2 separate regions of the Homo sapiens genome follow, and region 1 is linked to region 2. The links come from fine-mapping of genetic effects on gene expression. A gene starts in region 2. The other region holds a variant in brackets. All regions are shown on one strand. Distances are between the middles of the regions. Region 1 overlaps SPTSSB (serine palmitoyltransferase small subunit B). Region 2 holds the start of NMD3 (NMD3 ribosome export adaptor).

What was found.
Region 1: its variant is fine-mapped to the expression of NMD3 in whole blood (INTERVAL, PIP 0.91).

Annotation. Positions count from the first base shown.
Region 1 is chr3:161,338,815-161,348,785 of GRCh38, reverse strand. It overlaps SPTSSB (serine palmitoyltransferase small subunit B), which reads left to right. Exons shown (of 3, transcript NM_001040100.2): 3 at 2,431-3,988. The coding sequence starts at 2,463. The coding sequence ends at 2,693. Among named protein-coding and RNA genes, the nearest start is that of SPTSSB, 28 kb to the left of the region's middle. The variant T/C (reference allele first, on the strand shown) is at 3,850.
Region 2 is chr3:161,218,284-161,230,247 of GRCh38, reverse strand. NMD3 (NMD3 ribosome export adaptor) reads right to left here and starts at 8,937. Exons shown (of 16, transcript NM_015938.5): 1 at 8,839-8,937; 2 at 8,191-8,254; 3 at 5,184-5,318; 4 at 2,905-3,001. The coding sequence starts at 8,234. It also overlaps the pseudogene SRP14P5. RefSeq lists a silencer at 8,575-8,774 and enhancers at 8,694-9,195, 9,255-9,364.

The sequences.
Region 1 (9,971 bases), 120 kb before region 2:
ACAATCAGTGTTTTCAAGAGACACTTTTCACATGTCAGTTCTGGCTACTTAGAGGGCTGAGATTGTGGTAACTGGCAAAAAAAAAATTTTTTTAATCTTAACTGCTTAAATGGTTAGCAGTGCAGAAGTATATTTAAAACAGCCAGATTTAAAGTCATTGCAGATTTGGGGTATTTGTGATCAAGATCTTACCATGTATCCACTGTTGGTGCTATACATGTTGGTGTGCTTTTTATCTGCTGTTTCTTTTATTCATTGATTGATTGTTTGACTTTTAGCGGTTTTAAACAATAGACATTAATTATCTTGAAGTTTCTATGGCTCAGGAATCTGGATACAGATTAGCTGGATGCCTCTGGCTCAGGGTCTTTCTCAAGGCCATCATTAAGGTGTTGGCTAGGGCTGCCCAAGCAAGGAATTCTAATTTTAATAGAGAAAGCAATAGCCGGGAAATTAATCAATGCATTTTTTTTAATTTAGAGTGTTTTGTTTTGTTTTGTTTTGTTTTGTTTTGTTTTGTTTTGTTTTGTTTTGCCAGGATCTCACTATGTTGCTCAGGCTGGACTTGAAGTCCTAGACCAAAGGGATCCTTCCCCCTTGGCCTCAGCCTCTCTAGTACCTGAGACTATTGTCCTGCCCCACCATGCCTTAGCATTTTTCCATGTCCTTTCCTCCCACTTAGTGCTCATTCCTGGGCCCTCGATCACTGCATGTTTGTTACATGGTCCAGTTTGCTGCTTCCTGGAAGAGCATCTCCTGACTGTGATGCCTTTGAGAATAAAGTCTTTCCGAAGCCATTAATATTCAGAAGGAGCCACATGGTAATACTTAAAATGTATTCATTCGGTGAATGAATGAATTCTCCTAACCACATTACTCATCACTTAATTAGTGCAGTTTGTTTGTTTTTTGAGACAGAATTTTTGCCCAGGCTGGAGTGCAATGGCAAGATCTCGACTCACTGCAGCCTCTGCCTCCCAGGTCTCCCAGGTTCAAGTGATTCTCCTGCCTCAGCCTCCCCAGCGGCTGGGATTACAGGTGCCCACCACCATGCCCAGCTAATTTTTTGTATTTTTAGTACAGACAGGGTTTCACCATGTTGGCCAGGCGGGTCTCAAACTCCAGGCCCCAGATGATCCGCCTGCCTTGGCCTCCCAAAGTTTTGGGATTACAGGCGTGAGCCACCGAGCCCGACAATTAGTGCATTTGTAAAAGCCACAACAAGTTCGGGTACAGTGGCTTATGCCTGTCATCCCAGCACTTTGAGAGGCTGAGGCGGGCAGATCACCTGTGGTCAGGAGTTCAAGACCAGCCTGGCCAACATGGTGAAACCCCATCTCTACTAAAAATGCAAAAAAAAATTAGCCGGGCATGGTGGTGCATGCCTGTAATCCCAACTACTCAGGAGACTGAGGCAGGAGAATCTCTTGAACCTGGGAGGTGGAAGTTGTAGTGAGCGAAGATTGTGCCACTATATTCTAGCCTAAGCAGCAGAGTGAGACTCTCTCAAAAACAAATAAATAAATAAATAGCCACAACATATAGAGAAAAGTTAATAATATTTCTAAATAAGCAATATTATCTCATTTGTAAAAATGAAGAGTATTTAAGAATATTTTAAACAGGTTCTCAGTATACTGTTGATTCTGAAACAGTAATGCCCTAGGGAAGAGTAGAGGTACAGATTTTCTGAAATACTTGGGCTCCAAAGTCATTTCAACTTGACTCCAGAATGCAGCATTACCACATGAACTTAAAGCCTCCTCCTCTCAAACCCACCACAGCATTGCCCTAACTCAGAGGTTGAAGATAAAACAGTTAACTTATCCAACTAGGCCCTACAGCTTCTGGCCTCACTGTGGCCATTCCCACCTCTTCAGTGTCATCACACTCCCTGCTCCCTTCTCCCTCCGTGGCCCCTCAAAAGCAACCTACTTCTTCCCACCTCCAACCTTTGTACATATTGTTCCCTCTGTCTTGGCTGTTCTCCCTACTTCACTGTCTATTCTATCCATTTGACTCATAATGATCCCTTGGACCTTATCTCAAAAGTCTCTTCCTCAGAGCTGTGCTTAGGTTCACTTTTATTTCTCTTTGTATACATGGCTCAGGAAAATGAGGCTAACCTCAATTTTTAGGTACCATTATCACTAAAGTTATTTCTAACAATTGTCATGTTTAGATAGATGTTACTGTTACTAATAGTATTATTGCTGCCAATTTTAGTAGTGATTATTAGTAGTGGTGACAATATTATTAATTTTTATAGTTAATATAGTATGTATTATTTTACAGAATATTCATATATTAATAATATATTCAATGATCTTTAACAAATCTTTGAAAGATTTTAACATGCTGAGATCATGAAATTTTAAAGTGATTCTATGTTTGGTTCCTCATCCTCTAATCTGTTACATTCTTTAACAGGACAAACTTACTGCAGCTTGAAGGAGCCAACCATGGATTTGAGGCGTGTGAAGGAATATTTCTCCTGGCTCTACTATCAATACCAAATCATTAGCTGCTGTGCTGTTTTAGAGCCCTGGGAGCGATCTATGTTTAACACCATCTTACTAACCATTATTGCTATGGTGGTATACACTGCCTATGTCTTTATTCCAATCCACATTCGCCTGGCTTGGGAATTTTTCTCAAAAATATGTGGATATCACAGTACAATTTCTAATTGATCCTGTTCACATTCAGTGAAATGGCATTGCATATTTATATGTTGCTTACAGCTTATTGATTTAGGTAACTATTGTGTCTTCCTTCACTATCTGACCTGAAAAGCACTCTCTTCTCTATGCACTCTTATATTCTGCCTTTCTGCCTGGAGTTTGAAATACATGTCTCTTTAGTTTCTTTTGCACATGCTACATTGTGCTTTAGACCGGAGATAATACAGTGACTTTACCTCACAAATCATATTCTGTCAACACAAATCTATGAATTTAGTTTATTTAAAATCAGAACAATTTCCTACAAAATTTTTCTGGAAAATAGACTCCTAACAGACCTACCAGAATCATGCTTAAAGTGCTCCCTTGACACTTATTCTATACTAAAGGATAAATTTTAAAAAATCTTTATAGGCTACTGTCAGAAGTATCCTATCCTTGTTTACGATGTATAAAAAGATGTGAATAAATTATATGGACCCCCTAAGTCTTATTTTCTAGTAAACTGATGATACTGGAAATTCTTTTACTTCAAATGCAAAAGAATAAGCTGGAGGCAATTATTTCCTTTCATACAGAGTTCATGAATTGTTTTAAATGCTTCTTAAAGTCTGGCTTTATAACCGTTTAAAATCAACAATGTTGATTTTAGATAACCAAGTAAGTATTATAATACAAAATAATTTTAAGTGTAAGAAACTAAAGTATAATCAAAGTAAATTCAGTTATTGTATTTGTGGTGTTGCCTTGCCTTGCATGATGCTGGGGGAAAAAGAGAAAAGAAATGGTTTTCTTTTTGTACTTTCATTCAGTGTAGAGGGAAAAAAGCATGTATTGGGCCACCGGAAGACAAGCTAATAAATAGGCTGGAAGTAATATTCTACCAGCAGGAACTCAACAGCTCCAGTTAAATGCTTTGATATAGTGGCTCCTTTGCAGAGCCAAAACAAGATTTATTAAATTTCCTTCAAACTGTTTATCTTTAAAACAAATATAAGGTTTTAATTATACTGCTGAAGCAAATGTGAATGCCAAAGACTACGTTTTGCAGTTTTGCTTTCCTCCCAATAAATATTAATGTATGTAATTCTAGAGGGTAAAAATGTAAATAGGTTTGGACAATATTTGCACCCTTGTTTGTGTTATGAAAAAAATTTTTCCAAGG[T/C]GAGCTAGAGAGAAAGATGTTTGGCATGCCAAATTAACTTGCATGTTTGTTAAAAAAACAAACACATGTTTTGAAGAGAAACCAGATCTGAACATGTATTTGTTGAGTTTTGCAAAATAAAATTAATTTTGTAAGTAAATATCTACTTCCAGATTTACTTTTTATTCATATTGCACTAAATATCTAGATGTTACATTGCATATTTCTCCCCAGCTTATCATTTTTTAGTAATCCAATGTGGTAACTGGTGTTAAAACGGTAACAAAAACCTAACATTTATCAAGGGACTTCTCCATGCTGGACACATTTTCCATGTTGGAGTAGGTATAAAGGTCTCCTACTTACAGGTAAAGAGCCTGGAACTTGAAAAAGTTACATTTCTTGTTCAAGGTCGATTAGCTACTAGTAGCTACTAGTAGCATAGCAAGGATGCAAATCCAGGTCAGGACCACACCGGGCCCTGCAAATATTTTGCACACGAAAGCCCAGGGGAGGACAAAATGAACAGATGAAAGTTGATGGGATGAGTGTCACCAACGTTTGAAAGTAGAACTCCATCAAATAGAAGGAAGAGCGTTAGGAGACAGCCAAGGTTGGAGGAATGATAAGCTGAGGTCCCAGCTGTCACCTTTGCTGCTGTACCTAGGATGCTGTGTTCACCCATTTCTATGCTTCCAAGGCCCACATGACTATTTTGAAAGATTGCTTTCACTTCTAAATATTTAAAGAGAATTCTCAGTTAAGCATGAACTTGGATGCATTCCCAGTTCATAATGATTCAACACCCTTATATACATGGACCCCTGCTAAGTACTCCTGGAATTCAATCACAAAGATACTGCATTGACCTTCTCAAAAAATCCTCCATCTAAAAATAAGAGAGTTAAAATAAACATGAATAGACACAGCAAAGCTTAATAAAAGATTATTGCAAAGCACCACCCCAGGATGTCACTTCGAAGGTGTTTCTTCTGAGCAGTCAAAATAATAAATACAGGGTCCAAAAAACATAATCAAAAATAGTTTGGGAAAAAAAACCTATCAATCAGCATGTAGTGGGAAAGAAGAGTAAGCATTACTTTCCCTGCCTGCTAAGTTTATTTTCTAGACATGGAGAGAGACATTCTTTACCTTGACCCCAGTTTGCCTAGATTAGAAACACTTTTTGTGTGTTTTTCCTTTGCTTCCATTACTTGGATATTTCAATGATGTGTACAGAACTTTAAAAACAAGAAAGGCCAAAGGTTCCATGGCTCCGGTGAGCTTGCATTTGTCACTCACCGAACGAGAAATTGTAAAATGTTCTTTCCCTGGTATTGGCCAAGTCAACAGTTACTTTTATCTGCTTGTGCAACAAAAAACACAAAATGTCAAGATATCAGGCAGTTTAAATATCAAGATAGGACTAACCAATCTTCATTAAGTTGTTTGTGGAAAAAAAACACTCATCCACATTTCCTATTTTTTTCTTCTTCCATCACAAATATATTTAGATCCTCTTACTGGGGTGATTCTAGAAGGCAGATTTGTCCTTATTTCTGAATCTCCTGATACAGGGCTTAGCAAATTCCCACCCACGAGGACATTATATAGCTCCTTCTACCTTGTGACCACACAAAAACAAAGAAGCTCAGTGTCTGTATTAGGCCAACCAAAAGATGGACAGCTCCTGACTATGGACTAAAAGAGTAACACTTATTCATTCATTCAATAAATTTATTAAAAGTCAACCATGTATTGATGGGTAGATACAAGGATGGAAAAATGAAAAAATATGTGATGAGGAAAACATAACAATAGAAACTAGATGCTAGGTATACAGGCATTAATTGTCAAATTCTGTTAACATTATGTTTGAAACTTTTAAAAAAATACATAGGGAATAAAAGCCTACCATGTGCTAGTCTTTGGGCTTGGTACTAGAAAATGAAAATGAATGAGACAGAAGCAGAAACATCTCTGGAGTTATTAATGATAGTATCTGGTAGGCAAGATAACGACAACAACAACAAAAATACAAGCAAGCAAAATATTTATGAATTGTGATAAAGTTTAAAAAGAAAACACTAGTGTGCTAGAGAGACAGCGACAGGTGGTTGGGGATGATGAAGTCCTTGGGGCAAAGGGAACATAGCTCTTCCAGCTGCAGTAGAGCAGGATTCAAACGTCTCTAATTGAGGGACACTAAGCAGGGGGGTGATGTGCAAGGAATGTGATGTCATTTATACTGTAAGATGATGGCACTGGCTATGGTGTAAGAGTGGATGGGACAGAGGCATGATTTACCACCATAACCTGTTTTGGGCCATGATCCAAGTCCTCCATTCTTTCTGTAAACTCAAGATGGCATATAAGCATCTGTACCCCCATTGGGGTGTTGGGGTAATCATTCTATCATTCTTCTCCATGCACATTAATAAATTTGTGTGCCATTTCTCCTATTAATCTCCCTTTTGTCAGTTGATTTTTCAGTGAACCTTCAGAGGGCAAAGCGGACATTTTCCCTTGGCTCTTACACTATCAAAATGTAACCCCCTGAAACCCTGCTTATCTCTCGCACCTTACCATGCAAATGCAATACCTTCCTCCCAGTCCTGAGTTATATTTACCTGAGCCAGAGAAAGTACCTGGCTCCAAAGAGGGAAAAAGGGAAGTCCACCACCCACATGTGCATATTCTGTACCTTTCAGGTGTTGGTTGCCTCAGAATTGTGCAGGTGTTCCTTCTGAAGAGCACAAAGAACACAGCACATTGTTTTTTGCACCATGTACTCTTATAAAAGCTCACTAAACGAATGGATTGATGAACAAATCAAGCCCTTTTACAACTCCAGAGTAGAGACATTGAGTCATATTCCAGACATGATTTGTCACTAGCATTTTTATGAAGTCACTCACCTAAGGTGAGTTTTTAAACATCTGGTGAAGGTTTTGAGAGACATTTGTCCCTCTCCTGTATTCTCTTTACCCATTATTCCTTCTCTCCTGCTCCTATATTCTCACAACAATCCCCATGTGAGCATTTTTTAAAAAGGGAGGACATTTTTTTAAAAGTTCATTGATGCATCTGTAAAGATCTACAACTGTTTTCTCCTCAAGTACTAGACCATTGGTTCTCAGCTCTGGCTGTACATTAGAATCGTCTGGGAGCTTTAAAAACTACCAATGCCTGGCCCTGACTAAATTTTCAAACTAAATTGAAACCCTCAGAAGGGAGTGCCCAAATAGTAGTTTTTAAAATTCCCCAGATAATTCTAATATTTGGCCAAGATTGGGAACCACTTTAACAGTCTTTTAGTGAATGCTGATTAAATCACTAAAATCCAGCATCAAGCTGCGTACTCCTCTTACTCCCTCCCACTTGCCAGGCTTGCCGAACATGTCTATATATGATTAAGGCACTGCTCTTTCTCTAGATACAGTCTTGATCATAACAAACAGCGCTTCCTTACTGTTTTTCAGTAAAAGTACTCAACACTCCCATAGAAGCTTGAAGTGCTTAATAGTTAGCATCACACTCCCCAGTGCATTTTGTTCCACATAATGATGTCTTCAATCATTTCATCATGCATCATTTAAGAGCAGTAAAATATCACAAATTATGCTTATGGGCATGAAGCTCTAAAGGACACTCAGTCTGCTGCTGAGGAGCTTGGTGGAGCGCTTTCATTTGCAACCTGAGTACAAGATCGTGTCACAATAATTTGGTTAAGCCAGATAGATAGTACCATCAGCACTACTGCAGAGCATGCAAAGCTTTATGCATTTCACAATAATATCACAATAGGGCACCTCATGGATCAATGAATGTACCTTGCTTCCTTTTGTTTTTAATTACTTGCAGTTATATGTATTCAATGTGATATATCTATACACACATACATAATTTAATATATACATACATATATACATACACATATATATTTGTGTATACGTATATATGCTTCCACCATCTAAGCCTGTACCAATATAATTGGTGGCAGAACTTTTTTTTAACAAACTTATTTGGACCCAGACCTGGCTCCAGCACTGGTGTGGGTTTTTTTTGTTGCTGTTTGTTTGTTTGTTTAAGATTTAGGGGGTACATATGCAGGTTGGTTACACAGACATAAGGATATAATGAATAGATTGCATAATGTGCTTTTTGTGCTTGTATTGAACCCAAACAGTGAACGTAGTACCCAAAAGGTAGTTTTACAACTCTTGCCCCCCTCCCTCCTTCTCTTCTTTTGAAGTCTCCTGTGTCTATTTTTTCTCTCTTTATGTCTGTGTATACCCCTTGTTTAGCTCCCACAGATAAGTGAGAACATGTAATATTTGATTTTCTGTTCCTGCATTAATTCATTTAGGATAATGGCCTCCAGCTACATTCATGTTACTGCAAAGGACATAATTTCATTACTTTTTACGGCTTCGTAGTTTTCCATGGTGCATAGGTACCACATCTTCTTTATCCAGTCCACCATTGATGGGTATCTAGGTTGATTCTATAACTTTGCCATTGTGAATGGTGCTGCAATAAATACATGAGTGCATGTGTCTTTTTGGTAGAATGATTCATTTTCCTTCGGGTACATACCCAGTAATGGGATTGCTGGATCAAATGGCAGTTCTATTTTTAGGTCTTTGAGAATACTCCAATCTATTCCACAGAGACTGAACTCATTTACATTCCCACCAACAATGTGTAAACATTCTCTTTTCTCCTTATCCTGACCAACATCTGTCATTTTTTGAGTTTTTAATAATAGCCATTCCAATTGGTGTGAGATGGTATCTCACTGTGGTTTTAATCTGCATTTCTCTGATGATTAGTGATGATGAGCATTTTTTCATATTTTTGTTGGTCACTTGTAGGTCTTCTTTTGAGAAATGTCTGTTCATGTCATTTGCCCCCTTGTTAATGGGTTTTTTTTTTCTTGTTGAGTTGTTTAAGTTCCTTAGAGATTCTACATATTAGACTTTTGTCAGATGAATAGTTTGCAAATATTTGTGGCAGAAAATTTTAGTTAGAAACTGAGATAAACAAGTGATATGGACGATGGAAAGATAATCACCCCTCAGAGGGTAGAGTGACCCCAGTTCTTCTTGCTCTGGCTGCCTGTGTGTGGCCTTGGACAAGTGACTTCACTTCTCTGGGATCCAGTTTCTCTGCTGTGAAAAGAATGACTCCTCTGGGAATAGTGTGTGTGTTTTTCTCTTATCGGCTCTTGTGATCACTGGCAGGGCCACCCTAGAAGGTCATGTTGTGAAGAACTTTGAAGCTATACCTGCTCGTTGGAAAGAATGCCATTATGAACATATCAGTGTCTATCATGAGATCAGTAGAAGGGAAGTGGACTCTAAGTTCTGCTGGGTCAAAAACTGTAGAATTACTTTCCTAACCCAGTGCAGTGGCTGGAAACCTGTAGACATAAAATGAAAACACCTACTTACAACACTGTAACTGCTAATCTTTACAGCCACATAGAAATGTGTACACACATACTGGCAGCTTGTCTCTATATACTCAGATACACTTATTCTTCAACTTCAGTTCAAATTCTACCTCTTCTATTAGGCCAACTACATGCCATAACAATAAATAGCTAATATTTATACGGCACGTATACTATGCATCAGGTGCTCTTCTAAGCATTTTGCATATGTAATTCATTTAACTCTCTCAACAATCCTGTTAAATAGATATCATTATCCTCATTCTACAGATGGGGAAAGCTGAGGCACAGATTGTTTAAGTGACTTGCTCAAGGTTACACAGTTAGTAAGGGAGCTGAGATTTGAACTGAGGCTGCAGAGGTGAAGTGTTTAACCATTGGAAGGAATGGCACCTTCTACATGTCCACATAAACCATCACTATACCACACCTTTTTCTGCATTCTATCATTCACTGATTCTGTGTGATTATAGGACATCAATCAATGTGGTAAGCACTTTGAGATTTAGACAGAGCATTATATAGGATGACCGTAGATCCTGGTTTGCCTACCTAGTGCTTTTGGATGGGGATGAGGAAATTCAGAGAATTCTTCCTACATGAAGCGATGCCTGAGTTACATCTTAGAGGATGAACAGCAATTAGCCACATTAAAATTAGCAATTAAAATCAGTTTATTCTCTAA
Region 2 (11,964 bases):
GCATGTTTGTAGTACCAACTACTTAGGAGGCTGAGGCAGAAGGATCACCTGAGCCCAGGAGTTTGAGGCTGCAGTGAGACATGACAGCGCCACTGCACTCTAGCCTGAGCAATAAAGCAAGACCTTATCTCCAAAAAATAAAATAACATAAAAAGACAAGTGTCCCTTCCCCAACTTCCCCTTCAACCACTGCCCCATTTCTTTGTTTTCGTTTACAGCAAATCTCAAAAGAACTGTCTATCTTCCTTCTCCCATTTTAATTTCTATTTAAATGACATCTTTACCACCACCACTAAACAGAAATTGCCCATGTTATTAAGGTCGTCCACATTACTAAATCTACAGAACTCATTACTTGACTCATCAGCTGCAAATCACATAGCTACTCACTCCTTTCTTCTTAAAACACTTCCCTTTCCTCCCAGGACATCACACTCACCCTGTTTTCCTCCTACCTCCTAGCAGCTCCTTTCAGTCTCCTTTGCTGATTCCTCCTCATTACCCAATTATTTCTTCATCATTACCCATTAAAGGAATGATTCCAGGATTCAGTCCTCCAGTTTCTTTCCTTCTCTATGTAAACTCCTGAAATAATCTAATCCAATTCATGACCTTAAATACTATCTATATCCTAAATTCATTATCTCTAGACTGGACCACTCATTGGCTTATTTATCAACCTGCCTACTCAGTATTTCTACTTAAGTGTCTAGTAGACATCTAAATACCAGTTACAGATGAACTCTCATGCCCCCTACCCAGTGACTTGGCTGCTCAGGTCACGAACAGTGGAAGGCATCCTTAACTCTTCTGTCTCTTACAAAAACACATCCAGCTACATCAGTAAATGTTACTACCTTAAAAATAGATCCAAAATCTGTCCACTTCTTACCACCTCCATTGCTGATCCAAAACCATTTCTCATGATTATTACAAAAACTTAAACACCTTTACCTCCCTTACAACCATTCTAAAAACAGCAGCCAGAGGAATACTAATAAGTCATGTCATCTCACTACTCTGCCCTTCACCCTCTATACTCCTTACACTCAGAGTAAGAAACAGCCCCTATAAGGGCCTACAAGGCCAGACACACTGTGGCCTTCCATGACTTTTCTGGACTCTATCCCCAACTACTTTTCCCCTCACCACTCCGTTCTATTCACACAAGTATGCTCTTGCTTTTGGTCTCTACATTTGTTTTCTTTACCCCTAATGCTCTTCCTCCACATTTCTGCACAGCTTCCTCCCTTACTGTAATCTTTAGTGTTTACTCAAATGTCACCCTATCAGTGAGCCCTCCCCTAAACACCCTTACTTTAAATTTCAACTCTTCCATGCACAGTTCTTATCCTCTTCCTAGCTCCTTTCTCCACAGAATATACCTTTTAATATACCATGTAATATATCCACCTATTTTGATCGCTGCATACTAACATGCTGCTCCACACTGGCATGTTAGTGTGCAATTAGAATACACGCTTTCTAAGACAGGGATTGCCTTATTCACTGCCATATCCCCAACACCAAAAGCAGTTTGGCACAGAGTTGGTACTTAATAAACATCTGATGAATTAATTAATGAACTGTTAAGACTCACTAGACATTTGACAAAAACCCCAAGTATAAAAGCAAAAAACCAAGACACACAAAAAACTGACTTCATAAAAAAACAGAGACAAATGAGGGAACAGAAAGAAACAAAAAAAGTCCTATTATCAAAATCTTCAGAAAAACTTAAAAAAAATGCATCAAGAACATGAAAGACTCTGGAACTTAAAAACATTACTACTGGAAAAAAACAATTCATTAGAAAGATTAGAAGATAAAGTAAAAATCACCAAGAACAGAGGGGAGCGAAAAAAACCAAAAAGGTTTTTTAAAATATGAAGGGAAAAAGACAAAGTTTTATGCCAGAAGCGCCAAAAAGTGACCATCAGAAATTTGTGGGGTTGGCTGGGACCTAGTAGGAAAATAAAGGCAGAAATTTCAAAGAACTATTACATGAAATTTTATTAGAGCTTAAAGGAGAATCAGAAAAGTCTTCAATCTGAAAGAGTCAATTTCAATTAAAAACATGGTAGAAGTGAGTCATAAAGCTTAAAATAAAGAAAACTCATAGTGTCAATCACTTTCAATTTTATATCAGGAAATAAACTGTACTTTAAACAAACTATTTTTTTTAATACATTTATGCACTGACTTTCAGTGACAGGCACAAATATTTTATTTCCAGATCAATAATGACAATAAAAAGAAACCAAATAACATAGCCCTAATATTATAATCCCAATTATGTTTAGTGATGGTTTTACATAAAAATTTCCGTTAAAAAATTATACATGAGATTCTCGATAAATAACAAAGGAAAAAAATTAAATTCTGTCTTTTTAAAGCAAAAAGATATTTTTACTTTTCATAAAAAGAATATATATAACTTTAAAAAGTGTTTGTAGTGGGGTGCTACTGGCAACAATAGTAACATTTAATAGTTACTTTCGAGGCCAGCATGGTGGCTCACGCCTGTAATCCCAGCACTTTGGGAGGCCGAGGCAGGCAGATCACGAGGTCAGGAGTTCGAGACCAATCTGGCCAACATAGTGAAACCCTGTCTCTACTAAAAATACAAAAAATTAGCCAGATGTGGTGGTGTGCGCCTATAATCCCAGCTACTTGGGAGGCTGAGGCAGGAGAATCGTGTGAACCCGGGAGGCAGAGGTTGCAGTGAGCCGAGATCACACCATTGTACTCTAGCCTAGCCCAGGTGACAGTTCAAGACCCCACCTCAAAAAAAAAAAAAAAAAAAAAAATTCCTTTTGAAAAACCTACTCACAAGAATTTTCTGAAAATGAGACCTTTAATGAAAACATACCTATGAATACTGATTTTAGCTGTTTAACTTACCTTACTCAGAGGGGCTTTGATTTTTTTCAAGCACAAAGCAAGAAGTTCCCTGGATTCTAAAGCACACTGTATCCAAGTTCCTGGTGGTTGAAAATACCTAAAAGAGAAGATAACATACTGAAATCCAACATCTGTCAGGAAACACAGAAATTTCCATCTGAATACACAGATATAACCCAAATTATTAACCAGGCATAATAAAACCCAAGGATGATATGAAGCACTTAACTCAAACATATTTTAATGGTTCCAAAACTTTCAACTAGACTAGCAGCTTTAATTAAAAAGGTAAAATTCTGACTGAGAAAGTCAATCTGAAATAACCTACTAAAGTGATCTTATTACTTTAATCACCAAATCACCACTAAAATGTCCAAGAGTCTCTTAAAGCTATGCTCTGAAAAACAGGTGAGAATCATCTCAAAATGGCATTAAAATGGTTTATTATGTACTTCTAAAATGCCTGAGAACTGCTTATTTTTCACAAAAAAAAGGTACATTAGTACCTCACAACACTATAAATCAGCAATAGTTCAGTCTATTCATCTACATTTCAAGTCCTTTTCAAATTGTAAATTGTAAAACAACATTTAAAATCTTGGGTAAAACCAGACTAAAACAAAACTTAAATCTCTTACATATGTGCTTTAAGGTTTTTAGTCCTGCCTACCCAGGACTTAGCACTATGCCACATACATCTTATAGTAGGTGTTCAATAAATGCTTGCTAAATATAAAATACTTCCAAACATGTTATGTGAATGTCTTTTTGCCATACTTGTTACATAACAGAAAGTTTTGACTTTCACTTTTCAAGGTTCAATCAAAAACATTACACAGGTCTCCCTTTGTTTATAAGTACATATTTATTTCGTATTTTTTTTTCCTTTTTTCTTTTGAGACAGAGTCTCGCTCCATCCCCCAGGATGGAGTGCAGTGTATGATCTCGGCTCACTGCAACCTCTGCCTCTCGGGTTCAAGCGATTCTCCTGCCTCTCGAGTAGCTAGGATTACATGCGTGCCCCACCACGCCTGGCTAATTTTTGTATTTTTAGTAGAGACAGGGTTTCACCATGTTGGCCAGTCTGGTCTCGAACTCCTGACCTCAGGTGATCCACCCGCCTCAGCCTCCTCAAGTGCTTGGATTACAGGCGTGAGCCACCAAGCCTGGCCTATGAGTAAACGTTTAGAGTTAGAAAGGGCTTCACATATCACCTAATAAAACCCTTCATTCTGATGAGGAAATTGAGGCCCAGAGATGATAAACAGCTAAGAGTTTCAAACAGCTAGTTTGTGAGGAAGCCAAGACAAACTAAGTCTGTTTAGTTCTTTATCAGTACTTTTCTAACTCCACCAGGCTTTTAATAGCAAATATTTATAAAAGATTAAGCCTCACACTTGCTAAGCTTATACACTGTAAACTCCCTGAAACAGTACACAGTTTCATGTGTTTGTGTATATATATGTATATATACACACACACACATATATATTTTTACATATATACACACACACACACATATATATACATGTATGTAAATATTTTGGGGAAGAGATACAGTTTTCAAATTCTCAAAGGAGTCCATGAACCACCCCTCTAGAGATACACACTCAAAAAGTTAGCGTCTTAATCCATTTTGGAAATAACAGGCATACACTTTTACACTCATTAGGCAGTTTTGTGTTACTCAATGGCCTAATAGATGTAAGTTGTTTATGCTGACAAAGAAAATCAAGAGGAATGAAACATTAACATTCAGAAGAAGTCTTCTTCCTTCAAATCCAATCTTTATTTCAGACCATTCCAGATATAATTTATTGAGCTTCTTTTCCATCAACAATAGTTATTTTAATTACACGTGAATGTTATGAGTTTTTAAAACATATTACTAAATTACTCCAAACATAAGCTTTTTATCATACATGGCTTCTAATAACTAAAGAAAAAAAAACCTCATAATAACAATATGTCCTCAATAATCTGCTCTCACCCTTACAAACATCAACTCCTATTAACTATATACATCAAATCTATTAGATCCTTTAACAGAAGAACAGATTCAAATACATTTACACTATCTTTACCAGATTAGAAGGACACACTAGAAAAGTACACTATAAAATTGCAAATTCTAAAATCTTTGGCGACACCAACAGAAAATTTAAACCTTAATTGCATGCACTTTACTCCATATACCTTCGTGTAATCTCAGCATATCTCGGTGGTTCTCTAAATGTAAATTCCAACTTTAAAAAGAGCAAAATTGTACCGCACTGTACCTTTGACATTGTTTGCAGAACGAAATCGAGACTTGTTTCGGAATACCTTGGCTGATGTCCACTTTACTTCGCAAACAGGCCACACAAATATTGGCAGGATTTGGACTTATCGGAACACCACACTCACAGCACAAGCTTTAATAAATAAAGGATAAATTTTTCACATTAGATTTTTAAAATACACTAAATTTTTTTTTAGATGCCAAACAAACAAAAGCCTTCAAGTTAGGCCACAGCATCTTTGCCCTTTTCAAAAAAATAACAGAAACAAAGCAACCTGGGCCAGCCAGTGGCTCACACCTGTAATTCCAGCACTTTGGGAGGCTGAGGCGGGTAGATCACCTGAGATAAGGAGTTCAAGACCAGCCTCGCCAACATGGTGAAACCCCATCTCTACTAAAAATACAAAAATTAGCCAGGCATGGTGGCGCACGCCTGTAATCCCAGCTACTTGGGAGGCTGAGGCATGCATATCAAACCCAGGAGGTGGAAGTTGCAGTGAGCCAGATCACGCCACTGCACTCCAGCCTGGGTGACAGACCAAGACAATGTCTCAAAAAAAAGAAACAAAAAAAAGAAACAAAGCAATCTTCAAAGATGCAGTAGATAAAGAATAACCCTGTAATACAGGGGCAAAAACACCAAAAATGGCTATAATTCTAAAAATCCTCAATATAAGGCCGATGTCCTAAAGGTTCTAGAAGGTCAGTACTGTCCAACAGAATTTCATGCCACGACAGAAATGTTCTATTCTGGTCTGTACAACAAGGTAGCCACTAGCCACATGTGGCAACTGGGACATGAAAAGTGACTAGTACAACTGAGAAACTCAATTTATTTTTTTAATTCAAATTTACATTTAAATAGCCAGTATGGGTCTAAACAAGTCTTTTTTATTAAAAGCAAATGAAACTATATTGTCACATTAAAACAAATGGAGGTATATTGATGAAGAATACAAATCTTGCACTAATTTTAATTTTAGATACTGAAATATAATTAAAAATGTTAACGTGCTCTTTACCACACCCAACCAACACTATCCATAAAGATAACATTTATTAATAATTTGTATATATCCTTCCAAACATTTTCTATGCAGACACAAACATTCACATTAACTTTTACAAATAAACAGATAAACTTCCCAACCACAAGTGTAATAGCAAACTTGGGAAAAATTTGAGAAGCACTGTTATTCATTATCCCTTGTTGAAAATTGGAAAACCAAGAAAGAATCAATTAACAAGGCAATAGTGTGTCAATGGCAAAAACCAAAAAGAAAATCCTGTATCAAGAATATGTAAGATCAGTTTGTCTCTTTTTAATTCAACCACCTCATCTCTAAATACTAAGTCTTCAAAAATCTATTTATTCAGGGCATACAGAGGACCATAGCTTAGGTGAACAGTATGGTGTCACTACATTAAAAGACTACAGCTGTCTACTTATCTCTAATGAACATTTCTTCAAGTATATCTCTGGACTACACCAATAGAAACTAATATCTAAATCATTTCTAACAGAATCAGACGCCAATATACTCCAAAGGCAATTAAAAAAAAAAAGCATAAGGACTGCTGAAATATAAACATTTACCCATAGCAGAATTTTTTTTTTAACAGTATAGGAAGTCTATCAACATCTAGAGACTCAGTATAAATGACGGAACTATCATAATTCGAGATGTACTGGGGGCAGAAAAAGTCTGAGAACCCCTAATGTAGAACAACATTGTCCAAAATAAAAGTTCAATAATCTTCCATGTCCAATGGTAGCCACTAGCCACATGTGGCAACATGGCTAGTACAAACGAGCAACCAAGTATTTAATTTTATTCCATTTAAATTAATTTAGGAAACTTCCAACTTAAACTGCTTGGGGTTTATGTTGACAGAGTGGAGCCAGCGGTACCACCTGGAAAGAAAGCAGTTCCTGACAGAGCTAACCAGGCTCTTCCAGAAGTGCTGGTTGTCCGGAGGGAAGTATAATGGTCAAACAACCCATTCCAAGAAAGGGTTCTGTGAAGGGCTTTGAGCCCTTAGACAAGTGTCTGTTAAAAGCTACTGATAGAACAAGGAAGATCAGCACTATGCTGAGCTCCAAAGACATTTTCAGATGGCTTATTCAAACCCACTGAGCTAACTGATGGACAAGGGAAGAGTAAAGCATCACAGGGAAGGGGGCCAAATTTCCTGCTTTCACTAACCACTGAATTCCTATTTTTCCTTTGGTTTTTACTTTTGGCCACAAAGCTAGTTTCTCCATAGTTACTGTTTTCCTGTGAGATTAGGGTCATTCTAGACAGAAGGACTACAATGTTTACAGGGTAGTTGTGGTAAGAAGCCAATTTATTTTAGATTTAGCTAATTGGTCTGTGCTGAACGATTCCAGGATTATCGTTTAAAAGTCTCTGTAGTAATCTCTTTGAAGAGCACTGTATCATTAAACCTATTTAACAGCAAAAAAAAAAAAGTTAATTTGAACTTAAATGCAAGAAATTAAAAATTGATAACTAAGATTTAAGATGTTCAAAATTTAAAAATTACTACATTATAATCTCCAATAAAAATCAGGAAGTCATCCGAGCTACTCGGGAGGCTGAGGCAGGGAATTGCTTGAACCCGGGAGGTGGAGGTTGCAGTGAGCCGAGATCACACTACTGCACTCCAGCCTGGGCAACAGAGCGAGATTCCGTCTCAAAAAAAAAAAGTAAGTAAAAAGTAAATTTAAATAGCCACACGTAGCTAATGGCTACATATTGGACAGTGCCGATCTAAAAGGATGTATGGTAAATATTTTAACCCTCTTAGAGCTTATATTTACTAGAACAAGCTTTATAACCAGAAACTAATTCGATTTTCTACAGAAATAAGACTTCTATTTTTTCCCATTTATGACAATATACGCTCTTTCCCACCCACCCTCAAGCGTTCTCCATAGTGAGTTTCCCGGGCTCACTGAAGATTTTCACATTTAAGGGGGAAGGAAGAAGTGTCGCACTCACATGTGTCCAGGGCTGCGGTCGGTGGATTCTGCCATATACTCCATCGTTCTGTATGCCTTAAGTTCTTTTAAAAAAAAAAAAAAAAAAAAAAAAAAAAAAGAGAATGTTGGGATTTAAATCACTTTACCTAGTCTCCTCTTTTTACGTCTTCCTCCAGTCTCTCTGAATAATTAATATATTCACAGAACTTCGAAAAAGCAGGAAAGAAGGAAACCCAACTCCACTGGGTAAGTTCGTTAAAAAGAACTTTAAGATGAGGACCATGGGATTTCCTGAGCTTCCCAGCTGCAAGACCCTCGGGCCACCCAGCTCTGCCGCTGACCTCCATCTCACCTGGGCTCCAACCCTGGACGACCAAGGGCGAGGTCAGCTCGGGATTGTGGACGCCCGGGCCCTCCCGCTCTCCACCAGCCCAGGGACCGCACCGGACCACCGCGCCTCAGACCCACGCCACAGGAGTCTCCGGACGGCGTCCCGGCGCCCGAGGGCCACCCACGCCGACCCCCAACCCCGGGGCGCGACCGCACACGGGTTCCGGGCACGCGGCGCTCACGCAGACTGAGCACGGCCCCGAGGCCGGGGAGCCCGCCCCATCCGCTACTCAGGGGCCCGCGGCCGACAGCCCAGGTCTCGGACTCCGGAACCTACTTCGCGCCTCCAGACCAGCCCTGGATTTGCTGAAAACCCGCAACAAAATAGACCCCGGCTGTCCCGTCAGCTGCCAACCTGGCTGTCTCCGCCACAGAGAAGATCTCGCGAGCGAAATGCTCGAAATCCCGCGGCCCGAGTGACGTATTAAAAGGGACGGGGTGGGGACGAGGAAAGGGGCGGCACCGACGGGCGGAAGGGTGATGGGAGCGGCCTGGTGGCTGGGAAAGCTCGCGGAGAGAAGTCCCAGGGGCTCATTTGCCGTCAGTGACTGCTTTTCAGTTATCGTCTCGATTTTCCCAGGCCAGGGTTTACTCCAAACCAACCTCGCCCGTATATTAGTCTCTTTTCAGCTATCCCGACTGTGAGCTTGCTTCTTGATTAAATGATTATTTTATATAAAAGTTATCTGTAAACGGTACCTTATGCAAAGAAACTCCATCCAGGGCAGTGCCTTTTGTCTGTTTGGTTCACCGTCATATACAGGCCTGATGCCTGCCACATGCTAACTGCTCAAATGATTATTTGTTGAAAGAATGAAATGTAAAGCATAATTATCTGTGAAGAAGTCTATGCGATTTTTAGACAAATTATTAATTATGTGCTTCCGGATAGTGCATTTAATATCTTCTTATGACTGATTTATCCCTCAAACTTGGAGCAGCACAGACCGTGTCTAATCTGTCTCATGACAGCCTTTCAAATATTTGAAGAGTACAACCATTTTTTTTTCTAAATCCTCTCATCCCAAATTTCAAGGAATAAGCAAAGGCGTTTTGTAGAGGGTGATCAGAGACAGCCTCTCATCATTTCTTGCCCAGAATACTTAAGTAGCCTCTCGTCTGTTGTCTCTACTTGTAGACTTCAATTCATCCTTCTGAAATGCAGTTCTGATTTTGTCACACTCCCCTGCTTTTAATCCTTCAGTGGCCTCTGATTACCTTCAGCATTATTTCCAGTTTCTTTGTGTGGAAAGAAGACCTTTCAGGATCTGATCTCCACATATCCTGTCCTACTCCCAAGCACACGTACTCGCAAGCCATGAAGACCAACTGGCAGGTCCTCACAGAAAATAGTCTTCCTTTGCTTCTACCCGGGACTCGGCACTAAAGATTAAGCCTGAATTAGTTTCCTAGTGCTGCTCTAACAAATTATCACTGATTTAGTTGGCTTAGAAAACACAAATTTGTTCTCTTCCAGTTCTGGAAGCTACAGGTCTAAATAGATGGTGAGGGCTGACTCTGGAGGCTCCAGGAGAAAATCCATTCCCTGGCCCTTTCCAACTTCTACACGCTGCCCACATTCCTTGGCTTGTGGTCCCACATCATTTTGCAGTCAGAGTCTCCTTTTCTCACCCCCACCCCCCCGCACCCCTCTTACAAGGACACTTGTGATTTCACTGGGCCCAACCAAATAATCCAGAATAATCTCTCCATCTCAAGAAATTTAATCACATCTGTAAAGTTCGTTTGCCATGTTAGGTAATATATTCACAGATTTCAGGGAATAGGACATCTTTGCAGAGCCATTATCCTGTCCACCATACATCCTCTCTTTTCTGACTCCTTCGGTCCCTAAGGGCCAGAGGAGTTACATGCTCCTTCTGTATATATGGTTCTATGATAACACCTTTATACGAGGTATATGCCTCTATAATAGTGCTTTGAATTGGATCATAAATTTTCTACTCTGCATGCCCAGCAGTTTCAAAACCCTGGAGAGCAATTCGGGTCTTGTTCTTCTTGGTGCACCTAGCACAGCAGCTGACACAAAACAGACCCTCAATATATATTGGTAAATTAATTATCCATTTAATACCCACCACAACTCTGAAGAGACAGTGTTTTTCTCCCCGTTTTTTCTATTCACACTGCCTATGCCCTCAACCAAACACCACTAGGAACACAGCTGTAGTTAAGCAGCTTCTGTCTATTTATTACTCTTCGAAGTGAGCCCAGACACTCACCATGGATACCCTTTGGGTATCTCAGTAAGAGGGTGTTTAGAACAAACCTATCATAGGATTGGGGCTTTGGGCGGGTGTTTTCGGGGAGGCCCTAAGAAAATAGAGGTTTTTCTATAGATTGGATGCTGTCAGAAAGCAGGGGCAATTCTGTGATTGGATGTCTCAGTAAATCTTATTTACACAAAGGGAAGCAGGAGGATAAAGCTGCAATTAGCAAAGAAGTAGCAGTCACTCATTTTGGTGAAGAAAGGGAATGTTTGGTATTTTGTGGGTGGCATAGTGAACTTATTTTGGTCTGTGCTTAGACAAAATTATGAAGTGACCTTCTTTGCCTCATTTTATCATGGTTTCAGAGTAATCTTGTCTGAGTTTAGTATTCTGTGAAATTATTTCTGTCTAATAGGAAAATATTATGGCATAGCTGCAAGTACCAGACCAGCTTCTAAATGTCAAAGGCTGCTCATTTTTTAACACATTCCTTCTACAATTATTTGATTTGGCTCTGAATACCAGGCTTCTTAAGCACTTGATGTATGATAATAACAGCACAGATATGGTCCCTGCCCTCATGGACCTTACATATTACAGATGAGGCTGGATTAGATTAGGCAATTTGTTGAAAGTCCTATAGCAAATAATTGATAGAACTGGGACGTGAAATACAGTTTGTTTCTGAACCCAGACCCTCACCATAGCAGCCTACCTCCCCTTCTGAGGCTGAGGCCGTCTATTCCTATCCACAACCTTTTGATAAATGAAATACTTCTGTAGTAGAAGGCACCTATATTTCTCTCTTCATCTGCCAGCCCCCACCACTAAGATTTCCAGATGTCAAAAGTAAGTTCTTGATTTCAACTACCTCTCTCATGAGCCTGAATGAGCTTGCTAGGATTGGACTGAGTGGGATAATATTGGCAAACAATACCAGAGGGAAACTCACTTTGCACTTTTTATTTAACCTCAAATCTCACCTGAAAATAATAGGTGAGATTATTTTCAGCTCCCATAGTCCTTGCACTGAGGATATCTATCTGTATTCAAATCTAAGCCTTAGTATATGTTTACAAACTTCATTTCTATGTGTTTAACCATGGTATTAAAATGGAATTCCTGGCCGAACATAATGGCTCATGCCTGTAATCCCAACACTTTGGATGGCC